Regions from separate parts of the Homo sapiens genome. Here regions 2 and 3 are each linked to region 1. The links come from fine-mapping of genetic effects on gene expression. A gene starts in region 1. Each other region holds a variant in brackets. All regions are shown on one strand. Distances are between the middles of the regions. Region 1 holds the start of TBKBP1 (TBK1 binding protein 1). Region 2 has its middle 19 kb from the start of TBX21. Region 3 overlaps WNT3 (Wnt family member 3).

Region 1 (2,500 bases):
CTCCCAGCAGTGAGGAAAGATGGCAGCTGCTGCTTTTCAAAGCTCAGAGAGAGCAAGAAACCTTTTCCTTCCATCCTCCCCCTCGGAGATTCCCACCCCCATCCCACCTCAGGAGCCAAAAAGGTAGGCTCAGGTTCCCAGCAGTCTTCGCAGCTAAGGCTGAATCTGCCAAAAGCCCCCGCCCAGCTTATCCCCTGCTTCCGGGCTTTGCCTCCCTGTCCACAGAGGATGCTCTTCAGCCAGAGTGCTCCAGGGTTCCCCTGATCATTCTCTACCTGCAGCTAGGCTGACCATGCCTCTGTCCACATTATTTAATCCACCAGGCAATACTCAAAATGACATCGTTAACACTTCCTGAGCATTCGCAGGCTGCTGTATTTAGTTCTGATCCCCATTCTTCCTCCATGAGAGTGCTTAGGTGGGGCATGATCTCCAGCTTAGAAAGGTTAAGGTAACTTGCCCAAGGTCACACAGCAGGAAAGTAGCAAAAAACTTGTTTCTCTTGCCCAGCAGTTTGGCAGGTGCTCAAATAATCTTTGTGCACAGGGTGACATCTGTTGTTTCTTCATTTCCCTGACCTGTGGGTACTTGAGGGTGGCCGGGGAGTGGTGTGTGGGGAGGGAGATGGCTGTCCTTCTTCATGAATGAATCTTTGACCTCCTTAGTTTACTCTCACTTCCAAAGAAGTTACAGCTTTAATCTCTCTGTACCCTATGTTCAATGTATTTATCGCAGCAATGCCCCTTTTACCAAGAGCAACGAAGAGCAGGTCTAATGATTTCCTTCTCAAAAGCGCAAAGACCAAAAAAAAAAAAAAAAAGCCAGATAAATAGCCCCACTTCCTCCCCAAATATACAGCCCATAACTAAACAACCAAAACAACCAAAGCATCAGCCGGGCCCCTGCACTGACCGCAGACGCCCCCAACACACGCCACCACGCCACACTGCGCCGGGAGGCGTCGGGGAGGGGGCGCCAGCGCGGGCCGCTGGCGCCGCAGGGAGCCGGTGGGCTCCGGGCGCGCTGCCAGGAAGGGCCGCACCGTAGGGGCCGCCGCCTCTCGCCACGTGGTGGTGGCAGCGGCGGGGTCCGGGGCGCCTTCCCAGCTGGAGAAACCCGGAGCAGCCGGGGAGGAGGAGGCGGAGGAGGCGGCGGCGGCGGAGGAGGAGCGGGGCGGACGGGAGGGAGGGGGTTGGGGGGAGGGGTGGGGGGTGGGGAGAGACCCGGCGGCGGCGACAGGGCGAGGAGCAGAGCGCGGTACCAGGGGGGTGGGGGCACTGGTGCCCGTTTGGGGAGGGAGCAGGCGGAGGGGGTAAGCTGCGATTACAAGCAGGAACCGGCAGCAGCTGTGAGTCCCCGGCTGGGGCTAGGGCTGGGGGAGGGGAGCGGCGCCCGGGCTGGGCCCCAGGGGTCGCGGGGTGGGCAGGAGGAGGCGGCAGGAGGGCGGCTGGCAGCCGCACGGGATGGCTGGGAGGGAAGGGGTCCGGTGTCGGCCGCCCTCATCCCCTCGCGTCCCCCTCCGCCGCCGTTCCTCAGGCCGCGCCACTCCCGGAGCCCCTTCCCCGGCCCCGAGAGGGTGTCCGGGGGCCCAGGGCTCGGCCGGTTGTGGGGGAGGGGGCTGCGTGGTCTCGGCCCCCGAGAGGGGAGGGGCGACAATTTCTGTCGGCCGAGCGAAAGGGGTTTAAAGGGCGGCTCTTAAAGGGGCCGCAGGAGGGGCCCGGGCCGACAGAGGCACTCACCCCTTCCCCAGCCGCCTTCCATTGCGCTCACCCGGGCGCTGGGCCCAGAGAGGAATGCGGAGGAAGGAGGCATTTGTGGTGCGGCCTCGGGGACAGAGCCCCGCCAGCGGGGTGGGCGCAGAGGGGCGGGCGGGGGTCTGGGGGGGTGTGGTAAGCGCTGGCGCGCGGAGCTGGGGGGAGGGGATGGCGTGGGAAGGAGAGGGTTAAAGGTGGGGCCGGCCCTACAAACGCGCGCACACACTCCTTACTCAGACCCAGTCACTCGCGTTTCCCTGGCACTTAGATGGGCCTGTGGGTGGCGGAGGGGGGGGGGTGGATTGAATTGGAGCCTGCGCCGGAGCCCTTTGCACCCCAAGCTCCTGCAGCCCGACCTGGGGGCCCCGCTGTCTGAACTCACAGCTCCCTGCCGAGCCCCCTCTCCGGGGTGCACATAACGCTCCAGCGCGCGCACACACCTCGGACAGTCCCCTCGCGTCTCACGTGACACGCGGCCCGGACGTGCCACCCTGCCCACGCGCTCACGCACGCGTGCACACACCAGCCTCCTGGTCGCTGCCCCACTCCGTCCCGACGCCCCTGCGACCCCGAAGGCACTCATTGACTGACACACCTACACTCATTCACAGACGCACACTCCCCCCATACGCCAACCCCAGACACACATTCATAACCAGGCCCGAGAGAAGTACACACGCACCCCCTCACTGCCTACTCCTGCTTTCGGGAGCCTGAGTCATTCCTGCCCCCTCGTAGGGTTCCCC
Region 2 (2,843 bases), 58 kb after region 1:
CCAATCATATTATTTGAAAAAATGAGAGTTTTAGCCGGGCATGACGGCGGGCGCCTGTAGTCCCAGCTACTCAGGAGGCTGAGGCAGGAGAATGGCATGAACCCGGGAGGCGGAGCTTGCAGTGAGCCAAGATCGCACCGCTGCACTACAGCCTGGGTGACAGAGCGAGACTCTGTCTCAAAAAAAAAAAAAAAGAGAGTAAAAAAAATGAGAGTTTTATTTCCTTGTTTCTAATCATTATGCTTCTAATTTATTTTCCTTATCTTATTCGACTGGTCATAACCTCAAGTGCTGGTTTTTTGTCTTTTGGGGGATGGTTTCTTTCACTATTTTTTGACCCCACCTCTGATGGGGTCTCACTCCGTCACTCAGGTTGGAGTACAATGGTGTGATCATAGCTCACTGCAGCATTGAACTTCTGGGTTCAAGTGATGCTTCTGCCTCAGCCTCCCAAATAGCTAGGACTACAGATGTGCACATTATGAAGCCTAGCTAATTAAAATTTTTTTTTTTTTTTTTTTTTTTGTAGAAACAGGGCCTAGTTATATTGTCCAGGCTGCTCTTGAACTCTTGGCTTCAAGTGATCCTCCTGCATTGGCCTCCCAAAGCACTGGGATTAGAAGAGTGAGCTGCCATGCTCAGCTCAGTTTTCCCCTATTTATTACACTTTTTTTTCCTTTTACTTGTTTGCATTTCTATAATTTATTTATTTTAGTGGCTTATCTATACATTTTAATAAGTATATTTAATAATGAATGATGTTTTATCCTCCCTTCTCGTCAGTAAGATAATTTTAGATCACTTTAATTCTGATCTTCCTCCTTCTGACTTACTGTTCCTCCTTCTGACTTACTAATAAAAACTTACTTCCTTCTTCTGACTTATTGATAACTCTTATATTATCATTTTAGTAGCCATTCTAATAACCTTTTTTCATTCATGTTTTTCTCCTCTCAACTTACTCATTTCAGTTCTTTCTTTTTTTAACCCCTAAAAATTAGACTCCTTTATTATTTTATTGAGACTATGCTTTGTCTGGACTTACCTTTATGTTACCATTCTTTTTGTTCATTTTCCCTTTTTTGCATTTCTCTTTTTTGGGGGATCATTTACCTATATCTTTAAATCCTTTATAAGTTCTTTTAGAGAAGTTCTCTTTGTAAACTTCCCCTGGGCTTGTTTCTTATAAATGTTATCATTTTCCCTATTGGTATTGAGTGATTGTTTTGCTGAATACACAATTTTGGGTGAATAGTATTTTATTTATTTATTTATTTTTTTTTTTGAGGTGAAGTCGTACTCATTGTGTCACCCAGGTTGAAGTGCAGTGGCACGATCTCGGCTCACTGCAACCTCTGCCTCCCAGGTTCAAGTGATTCTCCTG[A/C]CTCAGCCTCCTGAGTAGCTGGGATTACAGGCATCCACCACCATGTCTGGCTAATTTTTTTTATTTTTTTTTTTATTTTTAGTAGAGATGGGGTTTCACCATGTTGGCCAGGCTGGTCTTGAACTCCCGACCTCAAGTGATCTGCTCGCCTTGGCCTCCTGAAGTGCTGGGATTACAGGCATGAGCCACTGCACCCAGCCTTTTCTTATCATTTTATATGAGTAATTCCACTGTCTTCTGGCTTCATTGTTGTGAGATCTGCTGCTATTCTAATTATCATTCTTTGTTAGGTCTTCTGTGTTTTTTCTCTGCTTTCCAGATCTTCTATTTATATTCATGCCCTAAAGATTCACTACGATGTGAGAAGGCATGATTTTATTTTTCCTTATCCTATTTGGGATACATTGTGTTTCATGGATCTTTGCATTCATCATTTTCATGAGCTCTGAAAATTCTCAGTCATCATCTCTTTAAATATTGCTTCTTTCTATTCTCTCCAATTTCATCCTTTAGGACTCCAATCAGATGGGTGTCTTTTTTTTTTTTTTTTTTGACAGGGTCTGGCTCTGTTGCCCAGGCTGGAGTGCGGTGGCACTTTCTTGGCTCACTGCAACCTCCACCTCCTGGGCTTAAGCCATCCTCCCACCTCAACCTCCTGAGTAGCTGGGACTACAGGCATGCACGACCATACCTAGCTAATTAAAAGAAATTTTTTGTGTGTGTGTGGAGACAGGGTCTCGCTATGTTGCCTAGGTTGGTCTTAAACTCTGGGCTCAAGCGATCTTCCCACTTTGGTTTCCCAAAGTGCTGGGATTACAGGTGTGAACCATGTTTATCCTTATAATTGCATTATTTGTTTTTGTAAACATTCTATACCTAGCTATTCTGTATTTTCAACATCTGCTGTCCTTGTAGGGGGTGATGATAGGGTTGTTGTCTAAATCTGTTGTTTCTTCTGATTCTCAATGATAGTGGGTTTGCCTTCTTCCTTGCTTGGTGGTCTTCTTTCTTTGTTTATTAAATTTTGCTAAAGAAAATCTTCAAGGAGTCTTTAGGCAATAACACTTCTGAGTATTTAACATGTCTTTATTTTACTTACACATGTGAGTGATAGCTTGACCCAGTATAAAAGTCTAGGTTGAAATCACTTTCTCTCAGAATTTTTTTTCTTAAAGACCAGTATGATAGTACTCTCAGATTTTTTTTTTTCCTGAGATGGAGTCTCAGTCGCTCTGTTGCCCAGGCAAGAGTGCAATGGTGCCCTCTCGGCTCACTGCAACCACTGCCTCCTGGGTTCAAGTGATTCTCCTGCCTCAGCCACTGGAGTAGCTGGGATTAGAGGTGTACGCCACCACGCCTGGCTAATTTTTATATTTTTAGTAGAGATGCGGTTTCACCATGCTGGCCAGGCTGGTCTCGAACTCCTGGCTTCAAGTGACCCACCTGCCTTGGCCTCCCA
Region 3 (2,500 bases), 910 kb before region 1:
CAGCTCCTTGGGGAAATTAAGGCCCAGGGAAGCGATGTGCCTTCCCTGCTGTTCCTCCACTGGTTGGAGGCAGTGCAGAGAGCACAGCCCAGGCCTGCTGACTCCCAGCCAGAGCTTGTCTCTCTCATAGCACGCAGATCGTTCTTGAAGTGCCCCAGACCTGATCATCTGAAGGCTGGGCCTCATTCAGTACCTGCATACTATGTGCCCAAGATGTATGAGATGTAGCCTCGGCCGGGCGCGGTGGCTCACGCCTGTATTCCCGGCACTTTGGGAGGCCAAGGCAGGCAGATCAACTGAAGTCAGGAGTTCGAGACCAGCCTGGCCAACATGGCGAAACGCCTGTCTCTACTAAAAACAGAAAAAATTAACCAGGCGTGGTGGTGGGCACCTGTAATCACAGCTACCCTGGAGGCTGAGACAGGAGAATCGCTTGAACCTGGGAGGCAGAGGTTTCAGTGAGCCGAGATTGTGCCACTGCACTCCAGCCTGGGCAACAGAGTGAGACTCTGCCTCAGAAAAAAAAAAAAAAAAAAGATGTAGCCTCCACCCTCCTCAGTGACCCCACCTCAGTGCAGGTGACCAGTCAGTTGCAGAGTGTGAGAAGTCCCACTTGGGACTTCAAGGAATAGGTGTGCTGAGGGGAAGGAAGTGGGAGAAGGCAAAGAAGTCCCCTTCAAAGAGGTGACATTCGAGCTGGGCCTTGAAGTTGAGCTCAGCTTGGCCAGCTTTTCCTCCTGGAGCTTGGCCATCTGTTTCTTTGCCTCCCACTCCACTAAGTGGAATTCTAATTCAAATTTTTCCTAAGCCATGTTTGCATCTTTAGTTCATTTTAACCTTGTAACATTTCTCCCCTTCCTGACCCCTCCAAACCCTAAGTCAGTCTCCCATTTTACAGATTGGGAAATGAGAACCTTACAGAGTTAGGCTGCCGTTCTGAGCAGCCAAGTCTGCTGGTTCCCACACCAGGA[C/T]TTTGCTGGGTCCCCACATTGCTATACCCTTCAAGCCAGTTCTGGTAAAAGACAAGACATAGCCTGCCCAGCCCTCTTGTTCGCTTCTGACTCCAGACTTCTATTCATCCCTCAAGGTCCCATGTTTAAATCCCCTTTTAATGTCTCCAATTCAAATTGTTCCCTCTGGCCATTTCCCCAGCTCTTATACATCCGTCACAGGTAACCTTCAATGCACTCAAGTGAATTGTCCACCGACTCCATTGATGGTGAGTTTTTTGAGAGGAGGGATTCTTTCACTCGTTTCCATGTAGAATCTAGCACCTGCTTCAGCAGGTGCAGTGGCCCTGCGAGGACCTCCCTGCGAGGACCTCCCTGCCTCCTTTCCCTGCCCTCAGCAGCCCCACTGAGTGCCCAGTCCTTTCCTTCGTCTCTCCCAGATCCCACAGGCTGTCTCCACGGCGAGCTGAGGGCAGGTGATGGCCATGGCCCTGCTGGCTCTCTGGGCCTTTTAACACAGCTGCTAGCTCCACAGTTTGGGAGTCCTTTGTTTGAATCTTAGAAGCAGCCCAGTGGGGAACACACAAAGCTGTGCTGCTTGGCTGGGAGCTCACTCTTAGAGCAGCTCCCCAGGGCTCCTCAGAGAGCCACCAGCCTGGTGTGTGTCTTTATTCAATAAACATTCACGCTGGGCCAGGCCTTATGCTGGACGCCGGGAGCACAGTGCGTGGGGCACTCCTGGTCTTGCAAGGACTCTTACCTGAACCTGGAGCTGCCCTGAGGAAGCCCATTCTCCTCTTTATGGGGGCCCAGAGGCCACCCTCCCTGCCTCACACCTGATAGCACTGGCCACCAGGGCTGGCACCTACCTGGACTGTCCCATCCACTCTCTTATTCTATGCTCTTCAGAAAACCAAGGACAGTCCCTGACCAGCTGGCTACTGGGGTCAGGGATGCAGGCTATACACTACGGCAGATCACTTGGGGTGGTTTTGAAAAATACAGACACCCAGGCTCCAACACCAGCGTGGCAGGATCAGAGCCTCTGGGGAGGAGTCCAGGAAACTGGATCATTAAAAGCCTCCACCAGAAGTGTGACAGTAGAATGGTATGAGATGATGCAGCAGGAAGGCCCCAACCTTCCCTATGATGTTCTTTGGCCAAAGACGTTTAATCTGATCTAACCAAGCTTTGAGAGGTAACCTCTCAGGGAACACAAGGGACAGAGGAACAAACCAAATGACACCATGGGGAAGCAACTGGACAAATTCAGAGCAGGGTTTGAACCCAGGGCCTTGCCAGCTGGAGTACTAAACCATGGCTGGGCACTTTGAGGCCACAGTGCACTGGACACTGCCCAGGGCTCCAGCTTGGACCTCCAGCTGGGCCTGGCCCTGGCCCTAAAGCCAGCAGTGGCAGATGCGCACGCAGGAGGCAGCTGCAGGTTGGGAGGCCTCACGGGGGATGCTGCGACCACACCCAGGTGCTCAGGGCAACGATTCCACTCTCTACCTTTCAAGGTGGGTATTTCCACCACATTCCCAGGAGGG

What was found.
Region 2: its variant is fine-mapped to the expression of TBKBP1 in sun-exposed skin (GTEx, PIP 0.90).
Region 3: its variant is fine-mapped to the expression of TBKBP1 in sigmoid colon (GTEx, PIP 0.99).

The regions. Positions count from the first base shown.
Region 1 is chr17:47,692,847-47,695,346 of GRCh38, forward strand. It overlaps TBKBP1 (TBK1 binding protein 1), which reads left to right and starts at 1,315. Exons shown (of 10, transcript NM_001394755.1): 1 at 1,315-1,348. RefSeq lists enhancers at 1,070-1,750, 1,751-2,430, 2,431-2,500 and silencers at 1,534-1,663, 1,914-1,973.
Region 2 is chr17:47,750,444-47,753,286 of GRCh38, forward strand. No RefSeq gene overlaps it. Among named protein-coding and RNA genes, the nearest start is that of TBX21, 19 kb to the left of the region's middle. The variant A/C (reference allele first, on the strand shown) is at 1,385.
Region 3 is chr17:46,787,440-46,789,939 of GRCh38, forward strand. All of the region lies in intron 1 of WNT3 (Wnt family member 3), which reads right to left. It also overlaps a transcript of LRRC37A2 not described here. Among named protein-coding and RNA genes, the nearest start is that of WNT3, 30 kb to the right of the region's middle. The variant C/T (reference allele first, on the strand shown) is at 972.